Homo sapiens: one gene and its partners. The protein of the gene in region 1 interacts with the protein of each later gene in a pairwise test. Each region holds a gene or a part of one and is shown in the gene's direction. Other genes may lie near its edges.

Region 1 (7,022 bases):
GGTTCCTGTCTCTCCTCACTGACCTTGACCTCTCCCTCGGTTCCTGTCTCTCCTCCTCTGACCCTGACCTCTCCCTCGGTTCCCGTCTCTCCTCACTGACCTTGACCTCTCACTCGGTTCCTGTCTCTCCTCACTGACCTTGACCTCTCCCTCGGTTCCTGTCTCTCCTCACTGACCTTGACCTCTCCCTCGGTTCCTGTCTCTCCCCACTGACCTTGACCTCTCCCTCGGTTCCTGTCTCTCCCCACTGACCTTGACCTCTCCCTCGGTTCCTGTCTCTCCTCCACTGACCTTGACCTCTCCCTCGGTTCCCGTCTCTCCTCACTGACCTTGACCTCTCCCTCGGTTCCTGTCTCTCCCCACTGACCTTGACCTCTCCCTCGGTTCCTGTCTCTCCTCACTGACCCTGACCTCTCCCTCGGTTCCGTCTCTCCTCACTGACCTTGACCTCTCACTCGGTTCCTGTCTCTCCTCCACTGACCTTGACCTCTCCCTCGGTTCCTGTCTCTCCTCACTGACCCTGACCTCTCCCTCGGTTCCGTCTCTCCCCACTGACCTTGACCTCTCCCTCGGTTCCTGTCTCTCCTCCACTGACCTTGACCTCTCACTCGGTTCCTGTCTCTCCTCACTGACCTTGACCTCTCCCTCGGTTCCTGTCTCTCCTCCACTGACCCTGACCTCTCCCTCGGTTCCTGTCTCTCCTCACTGACCTTGACCTCTCCCTCGGTTCCTGTCTCTCCCCACTGACCTTGACCTCTCACTCGGTTCCTGTCTCTCCTCACTGACCCTGACCTCTCACTCGGTTCCTGTCTCTCCTCCTCTGACCCTGACCTCTCCCTCGGTTCCCGTCTCTCCTCACTGACCTTGACCTCTCACTCGGTTCCTGTCTCTCCTCACTGACCTTGACCTCTCCCTCGGTTCCTGTCTCTCCTCACTGACCTTGACCTCTCCCTCGGTTCCTGTCTCTCCCCACTGACCTTGACCTCTCCCTCGGTTCCTGTCTCTCCCCACTGACCTTGACCTCTCCCTCGGTTCCTGTCTCTCCTCCACTGACCTTGACCTCTCCCTCGGTTCCCGTCTCTCCTCACTGACCTTGACCTCTCCCTCGGTTCCTGTCTCTCCCCACTGACCTTGACCTCTCCCTCGGTTCCTGTCTCTCCCCACTGACCTTGACCTCTCACTCGGTTCCGTCTCTCCCCACTGACCTTGACTCCTCACCTGGACCCTAAGCTGTGCTGAGGCTGCTTCTCCCTCTCGCCCTAGACTTCGACCCCCACCACTTCTGGCAGTGGAGCAGCTTCTCGGACTACGTGCAGTGCGTCCTGGCCTTCACGGGCGTGGCGGGCTACATCACCTACCTGTCCATTGACTCCGCCCTGTTTGTGGAGACCCTGGGCTTCCTGGCTGTGCTGACCGAAGCCATGCTGGGTGTGCCCCAGCTTTACCGCAACCACCGCCACCAGTCCACGGAGGGCATGAGGTAGGCCGGGGATGCCGCCACGGAAGCACCACTGCTCCAGAGGCACCACATGGCTGCAGATTTGGTAAAAATCAAACGCCTGTGTGTCTGGCTGTGTATTTCCCACGTTGACCTGTGAAGCTGCCGGTTAAAGAATAGCAGGTTTATAGGCCTTGGCCCCTCGACCTCGCGCTGGAGCAGATGAGCTTGTGTGGGCCGCATGAGGGGCAGCCGAGACCCAGCACGGGGTTGGGAGCTGCTCCTTCAGGGCCGTTGAGACGGAACCTTCCAGTGGGAGGGATGTCCGAGTGCCTGGCCAGACGGGGCAGGAGGAGTGCAGGGCAACCAGCCTGGCCCAGGGTCAGGGCGGGTCTGGTGGGGCAGGGAAGGTGGTCTGGGGGCTGCCTTGGACACTGTCCTCGGTCTTTCCCCACTGGCCCCAGCACGGCCTCCGGCCTCTGAGGTATGTGGTAGAAGGCTGGGCAGGCTGACGTTCGGAACCACAGACCATGCCTGGGCGCCCTGCACCAGTGCGTGCCTGGACGTCCCCGTGACCGCCAGAGGTAGGGCACAACGCGAGCAGCATGATGCCCACGGGCTCAGTCAAGGTCCTGGATGGAAACTGCATTGTAATAAAAACAGATCTGCTCGCTGTGGCGGGGGCAGAAAACTCTAGTCCCTCACACTTTCGACCCCCAGGCCCGCTCCTCACTGGGGACCCCCCGGTGCCGCTCCTCACTGGGGACCCTCCCCGGTGCCCGCTCCTCACTGGGGACCCCCCCCCGGGCCCGCTCCTCACTGGGGATCCGCCCCCCGGTGCCCGCTCCTCACGGAGAACACCCTGAGCCCCCACACGTTGCTTGAGTCTGGTCTCCAATACAGATGCTGAGGCTGTGATTTGGAGGGAATGTTATTCTTGGATTTGTTATTTGTGGGAAACAGCCTGGAAGAGAGGGGCTGACGCGTTTTTGTGTTGGAGAACGGGTGCCCAGGGGCCACAGCACTCTCTTGAGGGCTTTCAGAGACCTCTGAGTATTTGCAGGTTTGGCGTGTGGGCAGAGGTGTGAGGGCCGGGGGTTGTGTGTAGGTTCAGTTGCCCGTGAGAGGTAAAGGTAGGAGGGCTTGTCGTAGGTGTGGGGTGGTGGTAGGGGGTGAGATGTAGGTGCAGGCCAGGGTTATAGGTGTGGGTTGCAGTTACAGGTGTGTGGCGTAGGTGTGGGTGTGGGACATAGGCACAGATGTGAAGTGTAGGTGTGGGCTGGGGTGTGGGGTATGGAGTTCCGGTGTGGGCTGTAGGTAGAGGTGTGGGGCATGGGTCAGGTGTGGGGTGCTGGCATGGTGTGAGGTAGGTACAGGTTGGGGTGTGGTGTGGGGTGCAGGTGGGGATTGGGCTGCCCTGGTTGGTGTGATTACAGTGAATCAAGACCAGGGGGGTTGCTGGGGTTTCTCGGGCGAGGGTGCATGGAGGCCCGAGAGGGTGTCCATGGCTGGAACAGGCTCCCTCACTGTTGGGTTGGGCAGTGGCAGCCCTGAGGGCTTCGGTGTGGAGCCCAAAAGGCAGGGATGCTCCCAGAGAGAAAGTGGGTCTCAGGGCGGGCGTCGTATGTAGGCTCCCCGGCTGGACGTGGGCCTTGTCCGGCGGAGTGTGGCGTCCCCAGCCACCCCACAGCTGGAGATCCTGTGGGCAGTGCCCGCGTGCCGAGCTTGCGACCTGGAGATCTGTGGGAGGTGCCTGGGTGCCAGGCCTGTGCCCTCCAGAGCATCACCACAGCCTCGTGGTGAGGGTCTAGCGGATCCGGACCCCACATGCCGGCCTCCTGGCCCCTCACAAGGAGCTGGCCGTGTGTGACCTCACAGGGGCCCCAGGCTTGGCAGGAGCTGTTGCTCTCGATTCCAGGGTAGCAGGTTTTGCTGTTCAGCGCAGGCATGTTGTTCAAGGTCTCAGCCCAGGGGCTGCCCCGTCAGCTGGGGGGACGTGGGAATCCTCTTCAAACCCGAGTTTCCAGATGCTGGCCGAGGCGGCCCTGCAGGCAGGCCTGTCTTAGGCCCTGAGGTCTGCTCTTCTCACACACGGGGAAGGCTCCAGAAACGCCTGTGGAAGGGGGGTCTGTGTGTGGAAGAAACACATTGGACGTGCTTTTCCTGTTCTCACTCACTTCACCACAAGCAGCACACACACTTCCATGTGCAGGCGTCTCCCCAGCACCGAGCAGGCAGTCGGTCCTGCGGCGGGCACCGCCGGTTGTCCTGACCCAGAGACAGCGCCAGATGCCACCCACACTTAGACACCCATCGCAAATCTGGGCCTCTGGAACTTCTGGGCCATGTTAGGGTTCCATGACCCCTCCTTGGGCTCTGTCAGCTTGCTGGAGCGGCTCACAGAGCTCTGGGAAACACGGTTGCTGATATTTTACAAAGAGCATTTTAAAGGACAGACATAAACCGCCGAGTGAGGGGATACACAGAGGGAGCTGTGGAGGGGTCCCCAGGCAGGAGCTCGGTCTCGTGGAGTGGGGCTGCCGCCCTCACGGCACACAGATGAGCTCCTGTTCACTCTCCTGCCGGCTCCCGCAAATTCAGCTCTCCCCGGAGCCTCCCAAAGCCTGTCTACTTGGGAGACCTCATTGGATAGGCGTGATGGACAATGGTGTTGAAATGTGATTGGACCTAAGGGTGCGACGTGAACCCAGCAGGGTCTGTTGAGATTCTTCTGTCCTCTGTGCAGGCTCCTTCCTCCAGGATGTCGGCAGGACCCTCTCTGGAATGAGGGTTAGAGTCCTGCCTGGGCAGGTGAACAGAGGGCAAAAGGTCAGAGAGATTCTGTTTTCTGAGGCCTAAAGCACCCCAACGTCATGACAAGAGCTACAGAAGCACTGTGGGTACGGGAGCACCACGGGTACGGGAGCACCACGGGTACGGGAGCACCACGGGTACGGGAGCACTGCGGCTATGAGAGCACCACGGGTACGGGAGTGCCGCAGGTACAAGAGCGCCGCGGGTACGGGAGCACCGTGGGTATGGGAGGGTACGGGAGCACTGCGGGTACGAGAGCGCCGCGGGTACGGGAGCACCGTGGGTATGGGAGGGTACGGGAGCACTGCGGGTATGAGAGCACCGTGGGTACGGGAGCGCTGTGGGTATGGGAGCGCCATGGGTACGGGAGCACCGTGGGTATGGGAGGGTACGGGAGCACTGCGGCTATGAGAGCACCGCGGGTACAGAAGCACTGTGGGAGTTAGCACCCTGGAACCGTGGATGAAAACCCGTGTGTGTGGGATGCGGATACACTTACACACATGTAAAATAGTATTGGGGGTGCTGTGTGGGCGAGATGGGAGCCGGGGTCATGGTCCTTTGCCTGCATACTTCTCCTTGGCTGCGGAACTTGGAACGTGTCTCAGGGATCCCAGGAGGTGCAGGTGTTCTACCTCTGAGTTTGCCCTGCTCCCTGGGTGAGTGCCAAGCCCCTGTGAGATCACCTGGGCTAACTTCTGCTTTTATAAACCTCAGGTGTGGCTGGGGACGGGATGTCACAGGCACCCCATCTCCCCATCGGGCCACAGGAGGCTTGGCCTCTGTCCCTGCCGGGAGGGCCGGGCAGAAGACGGGCGACCCACACAGCTGGCACGTTGTGAGGGCTTGGATGGAGTCCTGAGGCTGAGGGAGATGGAGCAGTCTCTGCGGAGGAAGTAGGCAGCGAGGTCAGCCAGCTTCAAGTGCGGGACCGCTGAGACCCTGTGCATCCTCGTCAGGAACGGGGACCAGGAGCAGCAGCGTCGGGTCGGCTCGGAGTGATGGAGTGTGTGGTTGTAGTTACGGTAATGAGCGCCCCGGAGAGTCTGTGCACTGAGGCCCTGGCCTGGCCCCGGGGGGATGGGGAGGGGACAGGGCGGGCCCTGGGGGGATGCGGAGGGGGTGGGGCTGGCCCCGCCCGTGCTGCCGGGAGCTTCAGCCCTCCCCAGGCCCAGTTCATCCGGTCTGCGCTTTTAAGAGTGACCATCGGGCGGTTTTCCCACTGGAACACATAAGGCGTTTGCTGCTAGAACGCACAGCCAGCCTGACCCCATGCCTGCCAGCCAGGCAAAGTCTGGGGTCTGCTTGTGGGGACGTTGCCTCTGCATGGCCTGAGGGAAGGTTTTGGGAGGGTTCTCACTAAACGGGAAAGGGAACAGGACCACTCCAGGCCCAGCCTTTGTGCCGCACGTCCTTATTTCTGCTGCTCTGACGCCGCGTTTCACCTTGGCCCTGGGTTTTAGTATCACCCGAGTGTGAATTCTGGAGGCCCAGCAGCTGCCTTCCACAACCTGAGACGCCACCTGGCAGCCTGGGCAAGGCAGGGCCTGCAGGGCTAGGGCCGGCGACCTGGGGGCTGTTCCTGAGGCTCCCTCTGGGCAGGGCTGAGTCTGGAGCCGGCTCCACTTGCGCGTCTGAAGCTCCGTCTCTTTGGGCCTGTGGGCCCTGCCCACCTTCCTCCCTTGGCACTGCAGCCTGTGGGGCACAGGGTCCCCACCTCTGCCCCCCTTGCTGTGTGGTCTTCTGGCTTCTCCGCATGGGTCCAGGCCACCGCTCCGTGGATCTTCAGCCCTCCCCGGCCTGGGTTCCACTCGCTCTCCAGACGCAGCTTGGGCAAGGGGGTGTCTCTCCCCTTTGCCACTTCCTGGGTGCTCCTGTGGTACCTGCCTGTTCCTCCGGGGCCACGGCAGCCTTGGGGTGGGCTGGAGTGACCCCCCACTTCCTGCTGTCAGACCACCCCCCATCTGGAGGCAGGTCAGAGACGTCTCAGGTTCCTTTGTGCTCCGATCTGCCTGATGGGGGCGTCGTGGTATCCCCAGCCCTGTCAGGAGTTGTGATTCTTGAAGCCATTGTGGGTAGTGGTTTCTGAATGCAGGTTTGATAGATCATGTGTGCTTCCTGTATAATCTCCAGGGTCGTGTTTAAGATGACGTATTTAAAATGTGCACACACACGTACTTAACAGATACCCAAAAAACCAAGACTTTGGGCTGGGCGCGGTGGCTCACGCCTGTAATCCCAGCACTTTGGGAGGCCAGGGCAGGTGGATCACAAGGTTAGGAGTTCAAGACCAGCCTGGCCAAGATGGTGAAACCCTGTCTCTACTAAAAATGCAAAAATTAGCTAGGTGTGGCAGGCGTCTGTAATCCCAGCTACTCAGGAAGCTGAGGCAGGAGAATCACTTGAACCTGGGGGGCGGAGGTTGCAGTGAGCCAAGATCGCGCCACTGCACTCCAGCCTGGGCAACAGAGTGAGACTCCATGTAAAAAAACAAACAAGACTTTGGTGGCGAATGGTGACATGAGCCTGAAACGTGACAGCCTGAACTTCAGCTCCTTTTCTCTGGGGACCTGCTAGTGCCACTGCCCTAGGTGAGGGAGGCGTAGATGCTGCCTGGAATCTTCCCTGGGACCCACAGCCTCAGCTCCACATTAAACCGAAGGTCTCTAGGATGTTTGATAGGAAGTGACTCAAGAATTCCCGAGTTGATCTCGTAGCAGCCCTGCTTCTGGAAAGTCCTGTGTCTCGTGTACTTGCACACACGTGCACA
Region 2 (7,793 bases), on another chromosome or scaffold:
CTGCAGTGGCACTATCTCGGCTCACTGCAAGCTCCGCCTCCCGGGTTCCTGCCATTCTCCTGCCTCAGCCTCCCGAGTAGCTGGGACTACAGGCGCCCGCCACCACGCCCGGCTAATTTTTTGTATTTTTAGTAGAGACGGGGTTTCACCATGTTAGCCAGGATGGTCTCGATCTCCTGACCTCGTGATCCGCCCGCCTCGGCCTCCCAAGGTGCTGGGATTACAGGCGTGAGCCACCGCGCCCGGCCTAAAATTCTTAAACAGAATATAAAACAATGTAAACAAAAATGTTACAAAACAGAAATAAAAACAGCATTTGTGTTGGATTACCAAGTGTTCATTTTACCAAGAGGATAATCCCTTTACCTAATTGAAATAAGGAAGAAACAAAGGTGGGTGTGAACCTTTTATGGAGAGATCCTGGAAGCATGACCTTGGCCAAAACAACTGATGGCTCAGCCAATCTCTGGAGATGAGACCTGCAGAAGTTTCATTATTTGTTGCTGTCAAGGTGAAGCTCAACTCCATCCTGTGGATGAAGAGTCAAACTCTGTAGAGTATTTGAAGAGATTTATTCTGAGCCAAATATGAGTGACCATGGCCCATGACACAGCCCCAGGAGATCTTGAGAACATGTGTCCAGCGTTATCAGAGTACAGCTTGTTTTTATACATTTTAGGTTATAGGTGAATTCGAAGATTTTCTGATTGGTAGCTGGTTGAGTTTATCTAAAGACCTGAAATCCGTAGGAGGAAATGTCTGGGTTAAGATAAGGGGTTGTAAAGACAAGGTTCTTATTATGCAGGTGAAGCCTTCAGGTAGCAGGCTTCAGAGAGAATAGATTATAAATGTTCGTTATCCAACTTACAAAGGTGCCAGACGACCCCGGGAGCGCAGGGAGCGCTCCTGCAGGAGCATTTCAAAATAGGCCAAATGAATATATTTTGGGGTAAAATACTTCGATTTCTCTCAGGGCCTGCTGTCATGATTCTTATTGCTACAAAGAGTCTGTACTGTCAGTCTTAAGGTCTCTGTTTTTTGGGTTTTTGTTTTTTTTTTTTATTGAGATGGAGTCTCTATCATCCAGGCTGGAGTGCAATGGTGCCATCTCGGCTCACTGCAACCTCTGCCTCCCGGGTTCAAGCAATTCTAATGCCTCAGCCTGCTGAGTAGCTGCGATTACAGACATAAGCCACTACGCCCAGCTAATTTTTGTAGTTTTAGTAGAGACAGGGTTTCACCATGTTGGCCAGGTTGTGCCTTAAGGTCTCTGTTTTAATATTAATGCTGGTCAGCTGTGCCTGAATTCCAAAGGGAGGAAGTTATAAGGAGGCATGTCGGCTGGGCGCTTTGGATCACACCTGTAATCCCAGTGCTATGGGAGGCCAAGGTGGGCAGATCAGTTGATGTCAGGAGTTTGAGGCCAGCCTGGCCAGCATGGTGAAACCCCATCTCTATTAAATATACAAAAAATTAGCCGGGCGTGGTGGCTCATGCCTGTAGTCCCAGCTACTTGGGAGGCCGAGACATGAGAATTGCTTGAACCCAGGAGGCAGAGGTTGCAGTGGGTTGAGATTGTGCCACTGCACTCCAGCCTGGGTGACAGAGTGCGACGCCCTCTCAAAAAAAAAAAAAGGAGCCATGTCCAACCACCCATTCCATCATGGCCTGAACTAGTGTTTTGTGTTTACTTGAGAATGCCCTTGGTCAAGAGGAAGGGTCCATTTGCTTGCTTGGGAGGGGCCTAGAATTTTATTGTTGGTTTACATTCCTCAGAGCTGATTGCCTTCCAAAAGGTTGCACTCTGAAATTATTATCAACCCTGATCAATAATCATAATACTAAGAACTACACGTATGCTATTGGAATGGATTTATTTATCAGCCCTGTAGGAAAATATATATCTCACATCACCTCATTCCCATTTACCCACTTTTCCCTTTTCCAATCTTAAGGCTCGTGTTGTCTAAATATTCGATAGTTTCAGCACAGTTTACATTTTATAAAAGCCCCCACTGGCTGCTGTGCAGAGAGCAGGTGTGTGCCCCTGATCTACAGAAGGTCAAGTTGATCCAACTATCTGGCTGGGGCAGGGGAGTTGGAGAGGGGAGTGGGGAGATGGGGAGGGGAGGGGAAGTTGGGGGAGGGGAAGCACATTCAACTGGGATGGAGACAAAGGAGAGAGGCAGGAGGAGGGAGAATGAAGAGCTGGGGAAGGAGCTTTGGAAAAATACAGGAAAGCAAAGGATGCGGCGACAGAAGGAGAGGATGAGGAGTCAGTCAGCACCACATGGAGAGCAAGAAGGAAGAAGGGGACAGGAAATGCAGAAACAGAGTGGAAGGACAAAGAAACTACAACATACAGAGGCCTCGAATAAAAATCAATTCATCTCAAAGTGTTCAGCATTTTCATGAGGCTGTGAGACCGAAATAGGAAGAGGCCCTTTATTTTCTTAGGAAGAGAACACAGACCGGAGGTGGGAGAGGAATGGTAGGGAATTTTCCAAACAAAGAGAGGGCCTGTGGCCTCTCAAACTGCCCCCACCCCATGCTCACTGAAGCGTTCACACTGCAGCCCTGAACTCTTCACAAACAGGGTGAACTCCATCCAGAGAGGGGGGATCCGGAACCCATGCTTGGTTTCCATCCCAGCTGGAGGGCTGGAGAATGAGACTGCAGAGCTAGGGTTCAGGCCACAGCCTGGGGGACAGGGTAGGCAGGAGGTCAGCAAGGCTTAGAGAAGATGGATATGTTGGGTTGGGTGAGAGGCCTGGTGCTGGGAGTGGGTTGTCTACAGAGAAGCACCCCCAGGGCCTTGTCCAGGATGATCCTTGGCCAGGGGGGTCCTGAGGGGACTGGCACTGCACACCTCAGGGATGCAGTATCAGGAAATCTGGGGCTCCCCAGCTTCCTGCTCTGGTCTTCTTCTCTGGACACGCTCATGTTGCCATAAGGAGAGACAGAAACATCAGCAAAATCAGATCAATGCTTCCAACTGTATCCCTAACCCCTCCATTCCAGCCAGATTTGGAGATAGTACAGATACCCCCCTCCCCAAGTAAAGTGTCTCTTGACACCTTGGGGTTCAGGCCACAGCCTGGGTACAGGGTGGGTAGGAGGTGAGAAATGACTCCCCTTCTTCTCGATGGAAAGAAAAGGCCTTGGCCAGGGGACAGTGCTCAGGGACTCTGGCCACTCCAGTACCTGCCCCTACAGAGGCCAGAGAAGGGCAGGGCCAGCCCCTGGTACAGAGCACTGAAAGGAGGTTCCCCCTCCAACTTCTGACTGGTGCTGGTTGAAAGACTGAACAAACTAACCCACTGAGCTTTTTTCCTCACTGCAAAGTGGGTCGAATGACAGGGCCTGCTTATGATGCATGGAAGGGATTCAGTACTTCCTGGGGTTTACAAGAGCTCAGAGAATGGCAGCAAGGCGAGTTAGAAACATCCTGGGCACCTGTTTTTAACAAATTCATTCACTCCTTCATTGCACACATGGTTATTGAGTGTCTGCTATGTATGTAACAAGCACTGTGGATACATCATTACACAAGACAGATTCTCCATCTCCCCAGCAGACATTTCCGTGTGTGTGTGTGTGTGTGTGTGTGTGTGTGTGTGTCTGTGTGTGTGTGGCGGGGAGAGGGCACAATACAGAGTAAACAATAAATAAAGTTATATAATATAGCAGAGGGAATTTAGTACTAGGAAGGACATAAAGCCAACGAGGGAGATAAGGTGGCGGGGGTGGAATTTTAAATCAGCTGGAGCATATGTATGAAAGTGGGCCGGGCGCGGTGGCTCACGCCTGTAATCCCAGCACTTTGGGAGGCTGAGGCGGGCGGATCACCTGAGGTCAGGAATTGAGACCAGCCTGGCCAACACGGTGAAACCCCGTCTCTACTAAAAATACAAAAATTAGCTGGGCGTGATGGCGTGCGCCTGTAGTCCCAGCTTCTTGAGAGGCTGAGGCAGAAGAACTGCTTGAACTCGGGAGGCGGGGGTTGCAGTGAGCCGAGATAGTGCCACTGCACTCCAGCCTGGCGACAGAGTGAGACTCCGTCTGAAAGAAAAGAGGAAAGGAGAGGAAAGGAGAAGAGAAAAGAAAAGAGAAAAGAAAAAAAGAAAAGAGGCCAAGTGTTTCCCGTAGAGATACTGTGTATTGGGGGGGCGCACAGGGGTGCCACGAATTGAGCTGCCCACTCCTTCCAGATGCAGGGTTCTCACCCGGGTAGGTGAGAACGGGGTGAGGGGGAGGAATCACGCGTGGGTGGCTGGATTAGTTCCTGATGTCCTCTGATTCCCTACAGCTTCTTCAGCCCCGTTCTAACCCCCTTCCTCAGGCTTACAAGAAAGTGTGTGGAAGAGAGACACGGAGAGACTGAGCATTAGACTTTTTTGGAAGAAACATCAGTAAATGAAAATGGAATTACAATAAAAATAACAAAAGCAATAAACTCCTGACCTCAGTCACAATCATTTTAGTTAACACGCCAGTCCTAATAACAAACACGAGTCCCTGAGACCGCAACCCCTCGGGCACCGCAGGGCGTGCAGGTCTGGGCGGGCGGCGCAGCCTCCCCTGGCGGCTGACCCTGGGAGCGCGGGGAGCGCCAAGCCTCTTCTAGCGCTCACCTCGCGCTCACTCCTGCGCTCGCCGGGCTGCTTGTGCGGGGAAGGGGCGGGGCCCGCCTGGGCTCCTCCCCGGTCGGAGCCCGGAGCAAGGGGGCAGAGCGCGCCGGGCGCTGGTTAAAGAGGCGTGCGGAGGCGGGCGCGGCGCATACTGCTAGTGGCGCGCGGAGGAGCGACGCGTGGAGAAGCGGCCCACGTGTCTGCCCAGAGTCAAGTCCTGTGTTCTTCCCGCTCCTTACGCATCCGCGGTCCAGGGCGCCCTTTCAGCCCCGCTGGTGTTCGCCCACCCCGGGCCGCGTGAGTGGGGCCCCACGCAGCTCCCCGCACTCCGTGGGCCAACTTGGCCAAGCAACTCTGTCCGGGGAGCGGTGCTTGCGGGGGGTGAGTACCGGGCACTGCGCATGCGGAGCTCCAAATTCAAACAGCTGTTTTCAGAGGCTGGAGGGCGGGCGGACTGGTAGCAGCTGGGGCTAGGAGAGGCTTTCTCTAGGAGGCGGCCGCTCGGGAGCCATGGTGGACCGGGGCCCTCTGCTCACCTCGGCCATCATCTTCTACCTGGCCATCGGGGCGGCGATCTTCGAAGTGCTGGAGGAGCCACACTGGAAGGAGGCCAAGAAAAACTACTACACACAGAAGCTGCATCTGCTCAAGGAGTTCCCGTGCCTGGGTCAGGAGGGCCTGGACAAGATCCTAGAGGTCAGTCGCCGCCTGTACCCCCATATACATCTGAAGCTGGCTTGAGCTTTAGGGGGCGCTGAAAGGAAGACCCCTTCACAGCTTTGGGTGACCCTCAGTCCCTGTGGAAGGTCCAGGGGGTGATGAGAGAGCGTGTCTCATCATGGGTCAGGCTTCGAGGATCTGTCGCTCACCCGAGGGACACAGGGGTCCCCCAGGCGCGGAGACTCTTTGGAACTTAGTTTGGCCGGAGACAAATTGGAGTTGATTCCCGGGTGAACTAGGCTCCACGGTGTTTCAGTGTGGGTGTGACGGTACCTCCCTCCTTGGGAAGAGGCTGTGGGACGGATAAAGGCGTTTATCTTTCCCTGGAGACGCTCCCGGAGTCTGGGAGCCAAGCCTGGTGCCATCCCCTCGTGTCTCCACCTCCCCGCTCCAGGGCCAGTGCCACGCCTGCCAGGCTTTTCTTAAGGAACGTGAACCCGGCAGAGTGGCGGGAGGGTCCCTCAGCCCGAGCCTGGGCAAAATCTTCCGCCCCCAGCAGAGTTCCGGAGAGGAGCTGGAGGCTCTGTGGGGCCCGAACCCACGGGATGAGGGCTGGTGCCTGGAATGCTGGGGACGCGCTCAGGCTTCCGGGAAGGCTTATCTCGCGGAGACATCCTTCAAGGGCTTGGAGTAAAACTTTGTGAAAGTAGCAGGTTGCACAAACGAATAATACCCGCGTAGTCCCTTTATGATGGGGGAGGAGAGTGTGTGCGGAATTGGGGTGGGTGGGGGACTTCCCTCCGTGCTGACATTGGGAACCGCTTATTTTCTGGTGCACAGCCCGATGGGTGGCATTGACCTCACTTTGGATAAACGGGCTGCCTATCCTGGCTGAGACCTTGGGGCCCATTTGGGGACCGAGGCCCTCTACCCCAGTTTCTCGAGGGCTCAGCTTCAACCATCAACTCTTCTTGGCCTGCTCCCCCAGTGGAATGACCAGGACCTGGGTGAAAGTTCTAGATTGCAGCAGGTAGGGAGTAGGGGTAGATTGTCCAGGGTGTTACCTTGCTCTCAGGGTGAAAGATGCCAGAAAGGAGGTCTGATGAGAAGCAACGTTTAGTCTACAGCAGCACCTCAATACTTTATGCCTATCTAGTCGTCGCTCATTTTCCAGCCTCCGTTTCCCCATGTGAGAAACGGGAATGAGCCCATCCTCATTCCTTATTTCTGCCACGGACTGTTAGGTTGGAAGCATTTGGAAAACATCAAAATCTTGTCCCCAGATTGATGGACATCACACAGATAAGCATATACGTATTTGCTGGCAGCCGTGTGTGGGGAGACTTGTCCTCCAAGGGGTCCTGTAGAAGGGGAGGTTTAGTCTAGCAGGCTTAGTGTTGGATTTTAGTGGAGAGTCTCTTGCCCTGTAGCAGTTTCCCGGGTAGAGGCAGATGGGAGGTGATGGTGGGGAGGATAAGCTTCAGTAGATGGTTGGTTGGTTTACCTCCTAACAGCAAGAGTCCTGGCATGAAGAGTCTACATGGCTTCCTTCTGATGGGCGTCTACCCTGGGGGGTGTGTTGTGGGGAGGGGGTTGCTTTATGATTTCCCTTGAGGAAACAATTCCTCTAGAGAACAAGTTTTTGTTTAGTTTGTTCCAGGGCTTTGTTTAGAGGGGGAAGAGGGCAGGCAAGGATGATAAAGCCTTGAGCTGCCCTCGAAGTGTTTCCCTCTAAGCTGTTGCTCCAACACTGCAGGGGAAGGAAGGAAAGAATTCAAGGCTAAATGTGGGAAAATAAACTTCAAAACACAAGGCAAAGGGAAAGGCTGGCGGGGCATACGGCGGGGGGGGCGGGGTCCAGGGGTTAGGCAGCCGGGTGCAGCTGGTGGTCATAGCTTTGGAGGCTAGACGGCTTCTTAAGGTATTTGAACAAACAAAATGCCTCTTATTTAGCAGTCCTGTTAAATCTGTCAACATTTACCCCCCTACCAAAAAAAAGTAATGGGCAGGTAATTTTTAGAAAAAGGACTTGGGCATCAAGCCAGTCTGCTTTGGAGGCTATTATAGATAAGTTCTTGAACAAGGACAGCCCTGTCCTCATCCCCGGCCAAAGAAACTCCCAAACCAACCCCAACTGGGCGAGTCCCTTCCCGTCATAGGAAAAACCCCAAGAAATGAAAATGGACAAGTAGAAGCATTTGCTGACATCAGTTTTAATCTGCAGAAATCTGCCTTGCTCTGCTTTCTTGTGACTTGGGGTACTGCCTCAGGCCTCAGGATATTGGTTTAAGGAAAAATGAAAACTCAAAAATCTTCTTTCCCATCTGGCTGCTTGGGCATTTTCCACCTGACGCTCTGTGTTTTAGCTGGTTCTGAATCACCTTGGAATCATGAAGGAGCCCCTAGCTAGGAATTCCTGGGGTACAACCAGGGGTGGGACAAAGATTGTTGGAAGAGATGGGGTGCAGTCTGAGTTGGGGTTTCTCTTACCCTGAAAGTTGT
Region 3 (7,022 bases), on another chromosome or scaffold:
CCTAGAAAGTGACCCTATTTCCTCAGTAACTTAGACACATCCTAAACTCTTCCAGAATTAAAGAAACATTACTACATGCTATATAGACAAAGGCTATAGGATGCTTCTAGATTTCAGAAGCAAGGAAAAATGTGCTTTTAGACATGAGGCAAATTAAAATGCCGTATGCAGTGGTTTGAGGAGGTGATAGAATCATGTTTCTGAAGATGATTTTAAGGGCAAGTGGAAATGCTCATTGTATGTTAAAGGAGAAAAGCCATTTGCTTTTATTATATTATACATAATACATACATGTTTCAGAGGCATATTTAATCTTTGTAGAGGCCTTCTTCTAAGGATAGAATTTTGGTAGATCTTTGTTTTTTGAAAAATGTTCTATAATGAACACATTTGCTCTTGAAACAGGGAAAAGACTATATAATTTTATTTATTTTTAGGCTGGGGGGTTGAGGAGAGACCTCAGTTACAAAGATTTGGGTTAATTGTACTCCTTAGGCACACTATCATTAGCGGTTTATAAAGTAACTTTAAAAATACTGACTATTCCCACTAGAGGGCGCTCTTCCTAAATTTTAGATTGCCCATAACGCTGAAGATTTAAGCTTTGTAAAGGAAGTTTCAAGGTTTCATTTCAGCACAGCTGGGAGACTCGAGCCTATTTATTTGCTTGTTTGTTTGCTTGGCTTTAAATAAACTTTTTCGCTAAGTTAACTTTTTCAACCCTCCTTTATATCATCGGCATTTCTGTCTTTTCCAGAGTGTGTGGAACCATCAGTTTAGTAATTTGTATCCCTTCCAATTAATCTTTTTTTTTTTTTCAGTTTATGTTCCCTCAGCAGGATAGTGTTAGATGAAGAATGCTAAGGAATTATCACTAATTTTGTTAGGTATAATAATGGCATTGTGCTTAGGTTTTTTTTTTAAGTCCTTATCTATGAGATACATTTTGAAATATTTGTGGATGAAATGATTTACGCCTGGCTGGGAGCAGTGGCTCATGCCTGTAATCCTAGCACTTTGGGAGGCTGAGGCAAGCTGATCACTTGAGGCCAGGAGTTCGAGACCAGCCTGGCCAACATGGTGAAACCCCATCTCTACTAAAAATACAAAATTAGCTGGGCATGGTCCTGGGCGCCTGTAATCCCAGCTACTCAGGAGACTGAGGCAGGAGAATTGCTTGAACCTGGGAGGCAGAGATTGCAGTGAGCCGAGATCGTACCATTACACTCCAGCCTGTGACAAGAGTGAAACTCCATCATACACAGATAGATAGATATAGATAGATAGATAGATAGATAGATAGATAGATAGATAGATAGATAGAAAATTAGGCCAGGTGCTGTGGCTCATGCCTGTAATCCCAGCATTTTGGGTGGCCAGGGTGGGAGGATTGCTTGAGCTCAGGAGTTCAAGACCAGCCTGGGCACCATAGACCTCATCTCCACTAAAAAAATAAAATAAATGTCAGCCAGGCATGGTGGTACACACCTGTAGTCCCAGCTACTCAGGAGTCTGAGGCAGGAAGATCAGTTGAGCCCAGGAGATGGAGGCAGCAGTGGGCTATGACCATGCCACTGCACTACAGCCTGGGCGACAGAGCAAGCCCCTCTCTCAAAAAAATTAATTAATTGATTTTTTTTAATGAAAAATGTTAAGGAGTTGAACATGCTTTTGTTTTAATGTGATAATAACCCTAAATCCTGTGGACTGCTCGGACTGCCTGCTATTTAATTTAATAGACATTCCCAGATCAATGTAACAGATATTCATAGATTCTTAGCTCATGTCAGAAACATATGTTTCCCAGGCGCTGCAGGAGGTGCTGGAGTAACAAGGGCAGACGTGATGCCTGCCCTGCAAGAACTTGAGTCAGACATATTTGAGGTTTGGAGTGGAACCAACCATGCAGTAAACACTGACTACAAATGAATCTTGGCTGGTAGCAAATACCCCATATTTGCAAGGCAGGAATTTTATTGGCATCTCAGTTTTATGGGTTTGAGTTGAATCATCTCAGCCATGTGGTTAATAAATGGGAGATTTATTATTATTACTGCTACTCCTCCTAATAATAATAATAATTTCTACTAATAGTAATTTTTAAATCTTGATAGATTGTAATTTTTCCCAGGACGTGCAGCCCTTCATAATTATCATAACTATCTCATTGATCATTTAACTAAATTGTAACTGCTAGTAGCTGCTGCCTTCCTGCTTGCTGAAGTCACCTGTTCCTTTGCCCCCAACCATCTAAGGGCCTGTCTCCTGGCTCACTGAGCAGACAGGAGCTGGTCCTGAGCTCTGCTCTGCTGTGGGATGGTGGCAAAATCTGTCCAACACTTTTTCTGTCTCTCTTTTTATTCTGCAGCAGAAGTATTGGGAGGCCCTAAACTCGGAGCAGGTATGGACGATCATGCTCTTTCTCTTCCAGGAGGGACTTCCTATGGCTTGATTTCAGTTCCTGTTTTTGTTAGACCTTGTTAGATGGCTAGACCCATGACAAATTCCTTCAGTAAAAAAAGAATGTCAGGCCAGGCGCGGTGGCTCACACCTGTAATCCTAGCACTTTGGGAGGCCGAGGTGGGCGATCACCTGAGGTCAGGAGTTCAAGACCAGCCTGGCCAACATGGTGAAACCCTGTCTCTACTAAAGATACAAAATTAGCCGGGCATGGTGTCACATGCCTGTAATCCCAGCTACTCAGGGGCTGAGGCAAGTGAATCGCTTGAACCTGGGAGATGAAGGTTGCAGTGAGCCGAGATTGCACCATTGCACTCCAGCCTGGGCAACAAGAGTGAAACTCCATCTCAAAAAAAAAAAAGTCAAAATGAGAGGCAAGACTGAGGATGAATGGGATTTTCAGGGCTCTCTCAGGTCAGAGTTCTTTCTGCTTTGGGGGTATTCAGGTAAGCCCAAGTAATAGGGACTCCAAGAAGACGTGTAACCCAGTGAAGAAACATGGTTTGGAACAACAGTAGTAGTGGCCGGCATGGCTGCAGTAGCTGTTGCAATAAACAGTTCCAGACATTGTCATTCTGGGACCCTGGGCAGCTGGCTGCTGTCTCCATGCCACCCTTGCCTCCAAGTGACAGGCATGTTTTGTGACAACTACCTGTGCCTGTCATCTCCCAGGATTGTTTCTGATATGAAAATGGATCTTTTGCTCAGATTCTCTTCATGCCTGGTTTCCAGCAATGATTTTTTTTTTTTTTTTTTTGAGACGGAGTCTCGCTCTGTCGCCCAGGCCGGACTGCGGACTGCAGTGGTGCGATCTCGGCTCACTGCAAGCTCCGCCTCCTGGGTTCATGCCATTCTCCTGCCTCAGCCTCCCGAGTAGCTGGGACTACAGGCGCCCGCCACCGCGCCCGGCTAATTTTTTGTATTTTTAGTAGAGACGGGGTTTCACCTTGTTAGCCAGGATGGTCTCGATCTCCTGACCTCATGATCCACCCGCCTCGGCCTCCCAAAGTGCTGGGATTACAGGCGTGAGCCACCACGCCTGGCCCAATGATTTTATTATAAAATGAAGTTTTTAGGCCGGGCACGTTGGCTCACACCTGTAATCCCAACACTTTGGAAGGCTGAGGGGGGCGGATCACCTGAGGTCAGGAGTTGGAGACCAGTCTGGCCAACGTGGCGAGATCCCCATCTCTACTAAAAATACAAAAATTAGCCAGGTGTGGTGGTGTGTACCTGTGGTCCCAGCTACTCAGGATACTAAGGCAGGAGAATCACTTGAACCCAGGAGGCAGAGGTTGCAGTGAGCCCAGATCATGCCTCCAGCCTGGGTGATGGAGTGAGACTCTGTCTCAAAATAAATAAATAAATAAATAATGAAGTTTTAAAACACATTATTCTGGAGAGTCAGAAAAAATAGATTCTAAATGTTTTCTAAGATTTGTACCACTTTATTTTTACTTACTTATTTATGTATTTATTTATTTTTTGAGACAGAATTTCACTCTTGTCGCCCACGCTGGAGTACAGTGGCGTGATCTCGGCTCACTGCAACCTCCGCCTCCGGGGTTCAAACGATTCTCCTGCTTCAGCCTCCCAAGTGGCTGGGATTATAGGCGCCTGTCACCATGCCTGGCTAATTTTTTGTATTTTTAATAGAGATGGGGTTTCACCATGTTGGCCAGGCTGGTCTCGAACTCCTGACCTCAGGTGATCCACCCGCCTCAGCCTCCCAGAGTGTTGGGATTACAGGCGTGAGCCACCACACCCAGCCTATTTATTTATTTCTTGAGATGGAGTTTCGCTCTTGTTGCCTAGGCTGGAGTACAATCACACAGTCTCAGCTCACTGCAACCTCTGCCTCCCAGGTTCAAGCGATTCTCTTGTGTCAGCCTCCCAAGTAGCTGGGATTACGGGCGCCCACCACTATACTTGGCTAATTTTTGTATTTTTGGTAGAGACGGGGTTTCACCATGTTGGCCAGGCTGGTCTTGAACTCCTGACCTTAGGTGATCTGCCCGCCTCAGTCTCCCAAAGTGCTGAGATTACAGGCGTGAGTCCCCGTGCCCGGCCTGTACTAGTTTAAAGAGCTCACCTGATCAAAGTGACAGGTTTCTGTCTGCAGGCTGCTGAACTGGTCACGGTTGGCAAGAATCATTCTTCAGCAGCCATTTAAGAAGCTCGAGCAGTGGTTCTCAATCATCAGGGCATCTAAGAATCACCCTAGGAGCTTGTAAAAATGCCAAACCTTAGGTCTCTACCCCCTACCCAGGGGCTAGGGTGGGCCCCAGCATCAGTGTTTTTAGCCAGCAGCCTGGGTGCTTCTGGTGTGGCTGGTCAAGCACACGCTGTGAGAACAATGATCTAGGTCTCAGGCCTCAGCTTAGAAACCGTTTTCATCAAAGAGCACACTGACCATCCTCAGAGAACAGAACAGGGCCCTACTTTTTTCACTGGGCAGGTGGGTCACGTAGGCTGAGGGGCCTGGTGAGCTCTTTTATTTGGGGTCTGATAAGGTCAGAAAGGAATTTGGTTCAAGGGGTCCAGCCAGGTCTGCGACCGCAAGTTAATGCGATGTTCTCACTGGAAGTGGCTGGCACAGCCCCAAACAGGTGCAGGGGACGAGCTGCCCAAACCCAGTCACTGCAGGGTCACTGGGAATCAGGTGGTCTTTTTAACATGATGGCTTTTAAAATCGCCAAGTATTAGTACTCGATTCAGTTATTATCAGTAAATCACTAACAAACTGGGCTCTTTATTTCTGTCCAAAACAAGGCCACAATTTGTGTTTTATCACTGGGATGGCATGGCCATTGTGTCAATGGCTCAGGGAGACTTCAAGATCTTCGCTGGAACCTCTAAGGATTGGAATGTTCGATTCAGCTTCAGTGTGAGCAGCTGTCAGGGCATCTTTCTTGGAGAGCATGTCCATGCCTGGGTCTATTATCTTGTCCAAATAGATCGTCTGCCCAGGCAGACACAGCCTTTGTCATCTTTGCTTCTTGTTTCCTGGGTTTCCTAGTACTGTCAAATGTGACCTTGTGCCTCAGAATCATCATAGACGCTTGGAAATGGGAGAGATCTTCTTATCTCGTTGCTGATCCAATACCACAGCATACACATGGGGAAACTGAGGCCCCAAAAACGAAGGCAAATTAGTGACAGGAGGAGAACTGGAGCCCAATCCCTACTTGCCTCCATGGCTGGAACCTCAAAGGTAACACCAAGGATCCCCTTGGGCTCTAATCCATCATCTTAGAACAGCAGGAGGGCTTCACAGACAGCTTTGTCAATGCTTCTGTGCCCACTTGTATTAACCCGTCACTCACCCCTGCAAATTTCAACTTCCCAAACCCACCTGAGTCGGTGATGAACTATTCACTGGCAGTGCCCCCCCGCTCTGAATTGGGTTTTAAGTGATGACAAGTCGGCTGAGCCTCAGGTTTAGAGGAAACACCGTGTAGGAGCAGGAGCGAACGTTTGCTCTGTTCCCGTGGAGCCCATCATCTACCTGAGACAACAAGGCAGATGTCCGCATAAACGCCAGGGCTGTCCGTGCTCAGGGGCAAATCAGTGGAATAGGTAATACAAAGAGAAAGGCAGGTGAGAGCTCAATGGGCTAACACGGTCAAGGTAGGCTTCCTGGGGGAAGAGGTATTTACCTGGCCCATAAAGAATAGGTTGAAGCTGGGCATGGTGGCTCAAGCCTGTAAGCTGAGCACTTTGGGAGGCTGAGGCGGGAGGACTGCTTAGGTCCAGGAGTTCGAGATCAGCCTGGGCAACATTGCAAGACTTTATCTCTACTAAAAATTAAAAACTTAGCCAGGCATTGTGGTACACACCTGTAGTCCCAGCTACTCGGGAGGCTGAAGCAGGAGGATTGCTTGAGTCTAGGAGTTTGAGGCAGCAGTGAGCTATGATTGCACCACTGTACTCTAGCCTGGGTGACACCGCAAGACCCTGTCTTAAAAAAATAAAAAAGGATTAAGTTTGCCTGGTTTTTTCCAGGAATGAGTTAGGCATGGAGTCAGGATAAGGAGAACATGACTCAGTGTCACTAGATAAGGACTTGGTAGAGGCAGAGAAGAGTGGAGAATGAGGGCGGGAAGGAAAGTGAAGCTGTTATGTTTAGGGTGGTTGTTCATTAGTTGCTTGATGTAAAGTTATGCTTGCCTCCTTAGGTCCCAGAAACACAGGCCTGGGTAACTTGTCCTTACCCTTTTGTCCTTGTCTGTGCCTGGATCATGAGAACCAAGATTGGAGCTTTTGTTTGGGTCAGGGGTTATGACAGATGAGAAGCATCTATCCGTTCCACCCAGCTACCCTTTGCATCTTTTCTCCATAGTGGGACCCTGAAGATGTGAACCTCGAAGGCAGCAAAGAAAATGTGGAGCTACTGGGATCCCAGGTGCACCAGGACTCTGTGAGGACAGCACACCTGAGTGATGATGATTAACACCTTCTGGAGCCAGCTCATCAGCTCAGAGCCCAGGGTCAGGAGTTCGTTCAGTAACGCAGCGGGAATCAATCTGCACTGACACCGCGGCAGGAACTGAAGCTGCCCT
Region 4 (7,022 bases), on another chromosome or scaffold:
CTGAGGCAGGAGAATCTCTTGAACCCGGGGGGCGGAGTGAAGTAAGCGCCACTTCACTCCGGCCTGGATGAAAGAGCGAAACTCCGTCTCAAAAAAAAAAAAAAAAGCCAGGCATGGTGGCTCAAGCCTGTAATCACAGCACTTTGGCAGGTTGAGGCAGGAGGATAGCTTAAAGCCAGGAGTTTGAGACCAGCCTGGGCAACAAAGCAAGACCCCCATTTCTAAAAAGAATTTTTTAAAAAGTGTTATAACATTTCACTAGCTTTCTGTTAAGAGGGTTTTTTATGGATTGTTTTTTAATAGAGATGAGGGTTTTGCTATGTTAGCCAGGTTGGTCTTGAACTCCTGGCCTCAAGCAGTCCTCCTGCCTCGGCCTCCCAAAGTGCTAGGATTACAGGCATGAGCCACCGCGCCTGGCCTGTTAAGAGGTATTTAACCCAAAGCATAACCCCAAGGAAATTTTGGAAAACTAGGAGATGTGATTCTGTTGAACTAACTGGCAAAGCACTGATAGGTCACTTAGCTTGCTCTTCTCCACCCACTTAGTACTGAAGGTACTAATGCAGCTTGCACTTTGAGAGTGCCCTGGAAGATGATGGTGCAACATAATTCAATGAGTTCAAATCTCTGGCTACTTTCCTTGTCTGGCAAGCCCCAGTGAGATTACAGAGTATACCCCTAAATGGAAACAGCCAGGAGTCCCATCCGTCATAATTCTGCCACATGTCAGCTTTGCCCATGGAAGCTGAGTCTTTGTTTTCCTGATATCATCAGCTCTTTGCTTCTGGATATGAAGAATGTGGCCCTCCAAGACTTTATTGATAGCAGAGGACTGGAGCCCTGGTAATGTCTTTGCATAGGTTCTGCTGGCAGTAGAGATGTTGGAGATATGTCTTGTTATGCCTTTGAGAGGAGAAATCACCTAGTGTGCCTGTTTCCCTGCAGCCATGAGGAGTGGAACCAGATGCAGAGCCAGGAGGATGAGGTGGCCATCACTGAGCAGGATTTGGAACTTATTAAAGAAAGAGAAACGGCAATTCGGCAGCTGGAGGTGAGAGCCACGTCATGTTTTTTGTTTGACTCAGTGTGTCTGCAGGTATCTGAACTCCTTAGTTCACTTTAATTCTCTTAGTGATTATGAAAAGGCATAAAATGTGTCATTGTGTGATTTGTATTTTTTCTGTCTCAGTGTAATCATGGTGGGTTTGAACTACCGGTTTTTTTTGTTTTTTTTTTTATCTTGGATGGAATTTCGCTCTTGTTGCCCAGGCTGGAGTGCAGTGGTGTGATCTTGGCTCACTGCAACCTCTGCCTCCTGGGTTCGAGCGATTCTCCTGCCTCAGACTCTCGAGTAGCTGGGATTACAGGCATGTGCCACCACGCCCAGCTAATTTTGTATTTTTAGTAGAGACGGGGTTTCTCCATGTTGGTCAGGCTGGTCTTGAACTCACGACCTCAGGTGATCCACCCTCATCGGCCTCCCAAAGTGCTGGGATTACAGGCGTGAGTCACCGCTCCTGGCATGAACTACTGTTATAATGGCATTGGCCTTGGTGCCCAGGAGTACTCAAATCCTTTCCTCAATCACCACATCTTATACGGATCACCACATCTTATTTCTCCTGGAGAAATGTACATGGAGAACAGAACAAGGCAGACAGATATTTTATTGCTCATTAGAACTTTGACCTCAAATCTCAATGCCAACCTCCGGGTTAGGCAGGACTCCATGGAGAGCCCCTTTGCTTAGTCTGAAGAGCCCAGAATAAAGGCAGGCCAAAAGTCTTGCTCCATTTTTGTATATCCTAAAGTCTAATCCCAAGTTGTACATCTTATCCCTTCAGTGAGTCAGAGAAATAGGAACAGTTTTTGAGGTGGAGGTTGAGGGAGAAGTCTGTAGGCCTTTCTTACCTAACTGAGCTTTCAACTTTAATTTTGCACAGTGACTAATAAAATATCCTTTTTTTTTTTTTTCCGAGACTAAGTCTTGCTCTGTCGCCCAGGCAGGAGTGCAATGACACTATCTCAGCTTACTGCAGCCTCCCTCTCCTGGGTTCAAGTGATTCTCCTGCCTCAGCCTCCTGAATAGCCGAGACTACCAGTACGCACCACCACACTCGGCTAATTTTTGTATTTTTAGTAGAGACAGGGTTTTGCCATTTTGGCCAGGCTGGTCTTGAACTTCTGACCTCAAGTGATCTGCCTGCTTCAGCCTCCCAAAGTGCTGGGATTACTGGCATGAACCACTGTGCCCAGCTAAAATATCCTTAAACCTGAGTTTTCTCCAGTTTAGTTTTCTCCGAAGGTAGAAGGCTGCCATTGCTGGGATCAGGGGAGGAGAAAAGGAGAGAGGGAAATTTTGAGCTCTTCCTTGGCCTCCATCTGTAGCAGTGGTTCTGAACTGTGAGTGCACATGAGGATCACCTGGAGAAGATTTTTTTTTAATGCCCCAGCTCTCATCCACCACTAATTACCTGATGGGATAATGTGAAATTCCTGTTTATTATATGTTAAAAATGGGCAAATATCCATTATTTTATATGGTTCAAACTAATAAATCATAATTTCTGGGCGTGAGGCCCTGGGCATGGGTATTTTTTTAAAAAGTTCCCCCAGGTGATTATAATATGCAGCCAGGGTTGAGACCCACTGCCCTAAAGGCCATCAATGTCTGTTTTTATCTATTTATTATTTATTTTTTGAGTCAGAGTCTTACTCTGTCACCCAGGCAGGAGTGCAGTGGCGCGTTCTTGGCTCACTGCAACCTCCACTTCCTGGGTTCAAGCGATTCTCCTGCCTCAGCCTCCTGAGTAGCAAAGATTATAGGTGCCCGCCACCACTCCTGGCTAATTTTTGTATTTTTAGTAGAGACGAGGTTTTGCCATTTTGGCCAGGCTGGTCTTGTCTGTTTTTAGATGGGATAGTTTATCCTTAAGTTATGATTATTTTATTGCCTTCAAAAATGTCATATCTTTACTCTTTTTCACCTACTGCTACTACTAATTGAATTAATTGTCTAACATTAGAAATATGGCTAAGTGCAATGGCTCATGCCTGTAATCCCGGCAAGTTGGAGGCTGAGGCAGGATGATTGCTTGAGCCCAGGAATTCAAGACAGCCTGGGCAGTGTAGCAAGACCTTACCTCTACAAAAAATAAAAAATTAACCGGGTGCTGTAACATGTACCTGTGGTCCCAGCTACTCAGGAGCCTGAGGCAGAAGATCACTTGAGCCCAGGAGATCAAGGCTGCAGTGAGCCATGATCGTGCCACTGCAATCCAGCCTGGGCAACAGAGCAAGACTCTGTCTCAAATAATAATAATAATCCTTCCTTCAAAGAAAAATTACTAGCCGGGCGCGGTGGCTCATGCCTGTAATCCCAGCACTTTGGGAGGCTGAGGCGAGTGGCTCACCTGAGGTCTGGAGTTCAAGACCAGCCTGACCAACATGGTAAAACCCCGTGTCTACTAAAAACACAAAAAATTAGCCGGGTGTGGTGGTGCATGCCTGTAATTCCAGCTACTGGGGAGGCTGAGGCAGGAGAAGTGCTTGAACCTGGGAGGCGGAGGTTGCAGTGAGCAATTGCACTCCAGCCTGGCAACAGAGCGAGACTCTGTCTCAAAAAAAAAAAAAAAAATACAGTTGGCCCTCGATATATTTAGGTTTCACATCCTCAGACTCAAGCAACCGTGGAGTGAAAATATTTAAAAAAAACTAAAAAATAATACAACAATAAAAAATAATACAAATGTAAAAACCAATACAGTGTAACAGTATTTTATATAACACATTGTATTAGTTCAGTACATTACTAATACAATGTAAGTGCTATGTAAAATAGTAATGTAGTATAAAATAGTAATGTAACATTATATAAGTAATATAGAGATGATTTAGAATATAGGAGAGAATGGGCACAAGTTATATGCAAATACTATGCCATTTTATATCAGTGACTTAGAGGGAGGGAGTCCTGGAACCAATCCCCCACGGATACCAAGGGACGAATGTACCGTTATAGCAAAGTGGAGTGAGACATATGGAGCTAAGGAAAGAAATGTAATGGATGCCAGGGTATAATGGATCATTTCATATTCAACAGAGGAAAGTCCAAATTCCTTAGCCTAGGTTCAATTTTCGTATCTAGTAATTTCCAAACTCTGACATACACATTCTATGTTATGGCAAAGCTAGGTTATTTGCTCTTTAACTGAGTTGCCTTTCTGTTCATATGACCTCTCCTTTGCTTTAAGGCACAACTCATGTCTTACCTCTTCTGCAGAGTCTTCCTTTTCTCCACACCTTTCTATACCATTAATTCAGCCATTTCCTATATAGTACTCTTCCTTCTTATTTATTTTATTGTGCACTTATTCCCCACGTCCACCCCAGTTAGCTGTATTCACAGCAACTAGCAGACTACCCCAACTATGGTAGACTCTTAGCAAGTGATTGAAATGCTGACAAGACTTGCTTTAGCAGATAGTCCACTATAGTAGACTCTTAGCAAGTGATTGAAATGCTTGCCAGGTTATGATTCCAATAACCCTTCAAACCTGGAAGGGAATTGCCCTCAAATTTCCATAGGGTCATGCCCCATATGAGCACCCCTTTAATAAGACAGGTTTCCATTGTCTTTCTTCTGCCTGATCATGAGTCAGAAAAACTCAAATATAGGCCAGACGTGGTGGTTCACACCTGTAATCCCAGCACTTTGGGAGGCCGAGGCAGGCGGATCAGTTGAGGTCAGGAATTCGAGACCAGCCTGGCCAATGTGGTGAAACTCTGTCTCTACTAAAAATACAAAAATTAGGGCCGGGCACAGTACAAGCTCACGCCTGTAATCCCAGCACTTTGGGAGGCCAAAGTGGGTGGATCACCTGAGGTCAGGAGTTCGAGACCAGCCTGACCAACATGGTGAAACCCCATCTCTACTAAATATAAAGAATTAGCCAGGCATGGTGGTACATCCTGTAATCCCAGGTACCTGGGAGGCTGAGGCAGGAGAATTGCTTGAACCCAGGAGGCGGAAGTTGCAGTGAGCCGAGATTGCACCATTGCACTCCAGCCTAGCAACAAGAGTGAAACTCTACCTCAGAAAAAAAAAATAGCCGGGCGTGGTGGTGCACGACTGTAATCCCATCTACTGGGGAGGATGAGGCAGGAGAATCACTCAAACCCAGGGGATGGAGGTTGCAGGGAGTTGAGATTGTGCCACTGCACTCCAGCCTGGATGACAGAGCAAGACTCTGTCTCAAAAAAAACAAGTAATAAATAAAAATAAATAAAAAGAAAGAAGGGACGGAGGCTGGGCGCGGTGGATCATGCCTGTAATCCCAGCATTTTGGGAGGCCGAGGCAGGCGGATCAGGAAGGAAGGGAGGGAGGGAGGGATAGAGAGAGAAGGGAGGGAGGGAGGGAGGCCAGGCACAGTGACTCATGCCTGTAATCCCAGCACTTTGGGAGGCCAAGGCAGTGGATCACGATGTCAGGAGTTCAAGACCAGCCTGGCCAACATGGTGAAACCCCGTCTCTACTAAAAATAAAAAATTATCCGGGCGTGGTGGCATGGGCCTGTAATCCCAGCTACTCAGGAGGCTGAGGCAGGTGAATTGCTTGAATCCGGGAGGTGGAGGTTGCAGTGAGACGAGATTGTGCCACTGCACTCCAGCCTGGGTGACAGAGCAAGACTCTGTCTCAAAAAAAAAAGAAAGAGAAAGGAAGGAAAGAGAGAGGAGAAAGAAGGAAGGGAGGGAGGGAAAAAAGGAAGGAAGGGGAGGGAGGAAGGAAAGGAAAGGGAAGGGAGAGAGAGAGAAGGAAGGAAAGAGAGGGAGGGAGGAAGGAAGGAAGGAAAGAAGGAAGGAAAGAAAAGGAAGAAAAAAGAAAGGGAGGGAGAGAAGGAGGGAGGGAGGGAGAAAGACCCAAATATAGGGGATTTTGCCAATGTTAAATTCTTCCACTGCTGTTAGGAAAACAAGCTGCAGTTCAGCCCACTGAGCTGATTTGTGTTTACCTTCTTTGATCAGAGCAGTAAATAGGTTGTAGTCCATTCACTTTGGAACTGCTATCCACAGACCATCAGCTTTTTGTCAGTCAGTTGGGAGTTACCATAGGGCATTGTCCAGTGATGACAGAATCCAGCAACTCCTCACACAGTTCCAGAGTCAATCCCAGGGGAAAAGAGGCTCCTTACTTGTAGCTCCTCCTTGCATTCCTCAGATAGCATGATCTTGTATAAACATTTAAATTCTGTAGTCCAAAGTCCCAGTGGTTGTCATCGGGAGGCACTCAACAGGCTTTTGTCACAAGGCCTAGCAGTCTCCACATAGGGCTATCACACCAAGAATTTGTCTATATCAGCACTCCAGCCTTCTGCTGTACTGTTTGGACTTGGGCGCTCTTACTGGTTCTCATGTAGCATGTCCCATTAATGTTGCTTGAAGAGTGAGTTTATGTGCCTTCTGTTTTACAATATTGGGTAGGCAGCAATAGATTATTTTCTGTTTATGGAGAAAGCATGCTTTGTAGAGCCTTAAAAACACACGTGTTAATAGCTAAAACTTTAGGTACGTGAGGGAAACAAATCTTCTAACATGTTGCTTAATGTTAGTTAATTGTTTTTTGTCTTCCTTAGGCTGACATTTTGGATGTCAATCAGATATTTAAAGATTTGGCCATGATGATCCATGACCAGGGTGATCTGATTGGTATGTATTATTGATACCTTTAACCTCAAGGTGAGTTGATAGTATTTGGCATGCATCTGTAATCCCAGCTACTCAGAAGGCTGAGGCTGAAGCACCATCTAGGAGTTTGAAGCCAACCTGGGCAACATAATGAGAATTTGTCTCTTAAAAAAGAAAGAAAGAAAGAAAAAGGAGTTAGGCTAGGCGTGGTGGCTCAGGCCTGTAATCCCAGCACTTTGGGAAGCCCAAGCGGGCAGATCATGAGGTCAGGAGATGGAGACCATCCTGGCTCACACGGTGAAACCCGTCTCTACTAAAAATACAAAAAATTAGCTAC

The links.
Region 2: the proteins of SLC66A2 (region 1) and KCNK5 interact in binary tests that used the Homo sapiens proteins (3 or more experiments, as listed by UniProt).
Region 3: the proteins of SLC66A2 (region 1) and TMEM44 interact in binary tests that used the Homo sapiens proteins (3 or more experiments, as listed by UniProt).
Region 4: the proteins of SLC66A2 (region 1) and STX12 interact in binary tests that used the Homo sapiens proteins (3 or more experiments, as listed by UniProt).

What each region holds. Positions count from the first base shown.
Region 1 is NC_000018.10:79,913,642-79,920,663, reverse strand, and holds part of SLC66A2 (solute carrier family 66 member 2), read left to right. Parts: intron 1-1,263; coding exon 1,264-1,480; intron 1,481-4,184; coding exon of another isoform or gene 4,185-4,233; exon of another isoform or gene 4,234-4,476; intron 4,477-4,969; exon of another isoform or gene 4,970-5,274; intron 5,275-7,022.
Region 2 is NC_000006.12:39,226,460-39,234,252, reverse strand, and holds the start of KCNK5 (potassium channel subfamily K member 5), read left to right. Parts: upstream 1-4,777; 5' UTR 4,778-5,141; coding exon 5,142-5,327; intron 5,328-7,793. UniProt on the Homo sapiens protein: K(+) channel that conducts voltage-dependent outward rectifying currents upon membrane depolarization. Voltage sensing is coupled to K(+) electrochemical gradient in an 'ion flux gating' mode where outward but not inward ion flow opens the gate.
Region 3 is NC_000003.12:194,588,420-194,595,441, reverse strand, and holds part of TMEM44 (transmembrane protein 44), read left to right. Parts: intron 1-2,371; coding exon of another isoform or gene 2,372-2,401; intron 2,402-4,609; exon of another isoform or gene 4,610-5,587; intron 5,588-5,815; exon of another isoform or gene 5,816-5,968; intron 5,969-6,299; exon of another isoform or gene 6,300-6,421; intron 6,422-6,802; coding exon 6,803-6,913; 3' UTR 6,914-7,022.
Region 4 is NC_000001.11:27,811,218-27,818,239, forward strand, and holds part of STX12 (syntaxin-12), read left to right. Parts: intron 1-945; coding exon 946-1,051; intron 1,052-6,633; coding exon 6,634-6,706; intron 6,707-7,022. UniProt on the Homo sapiens protein: SNARE promoting fusion of transport vesicles with target membranes. Together with SNARE STX6, promotes movement of vesicles from endosomes to the cell membrane, and may therefore function in the endocytic recycling pathway.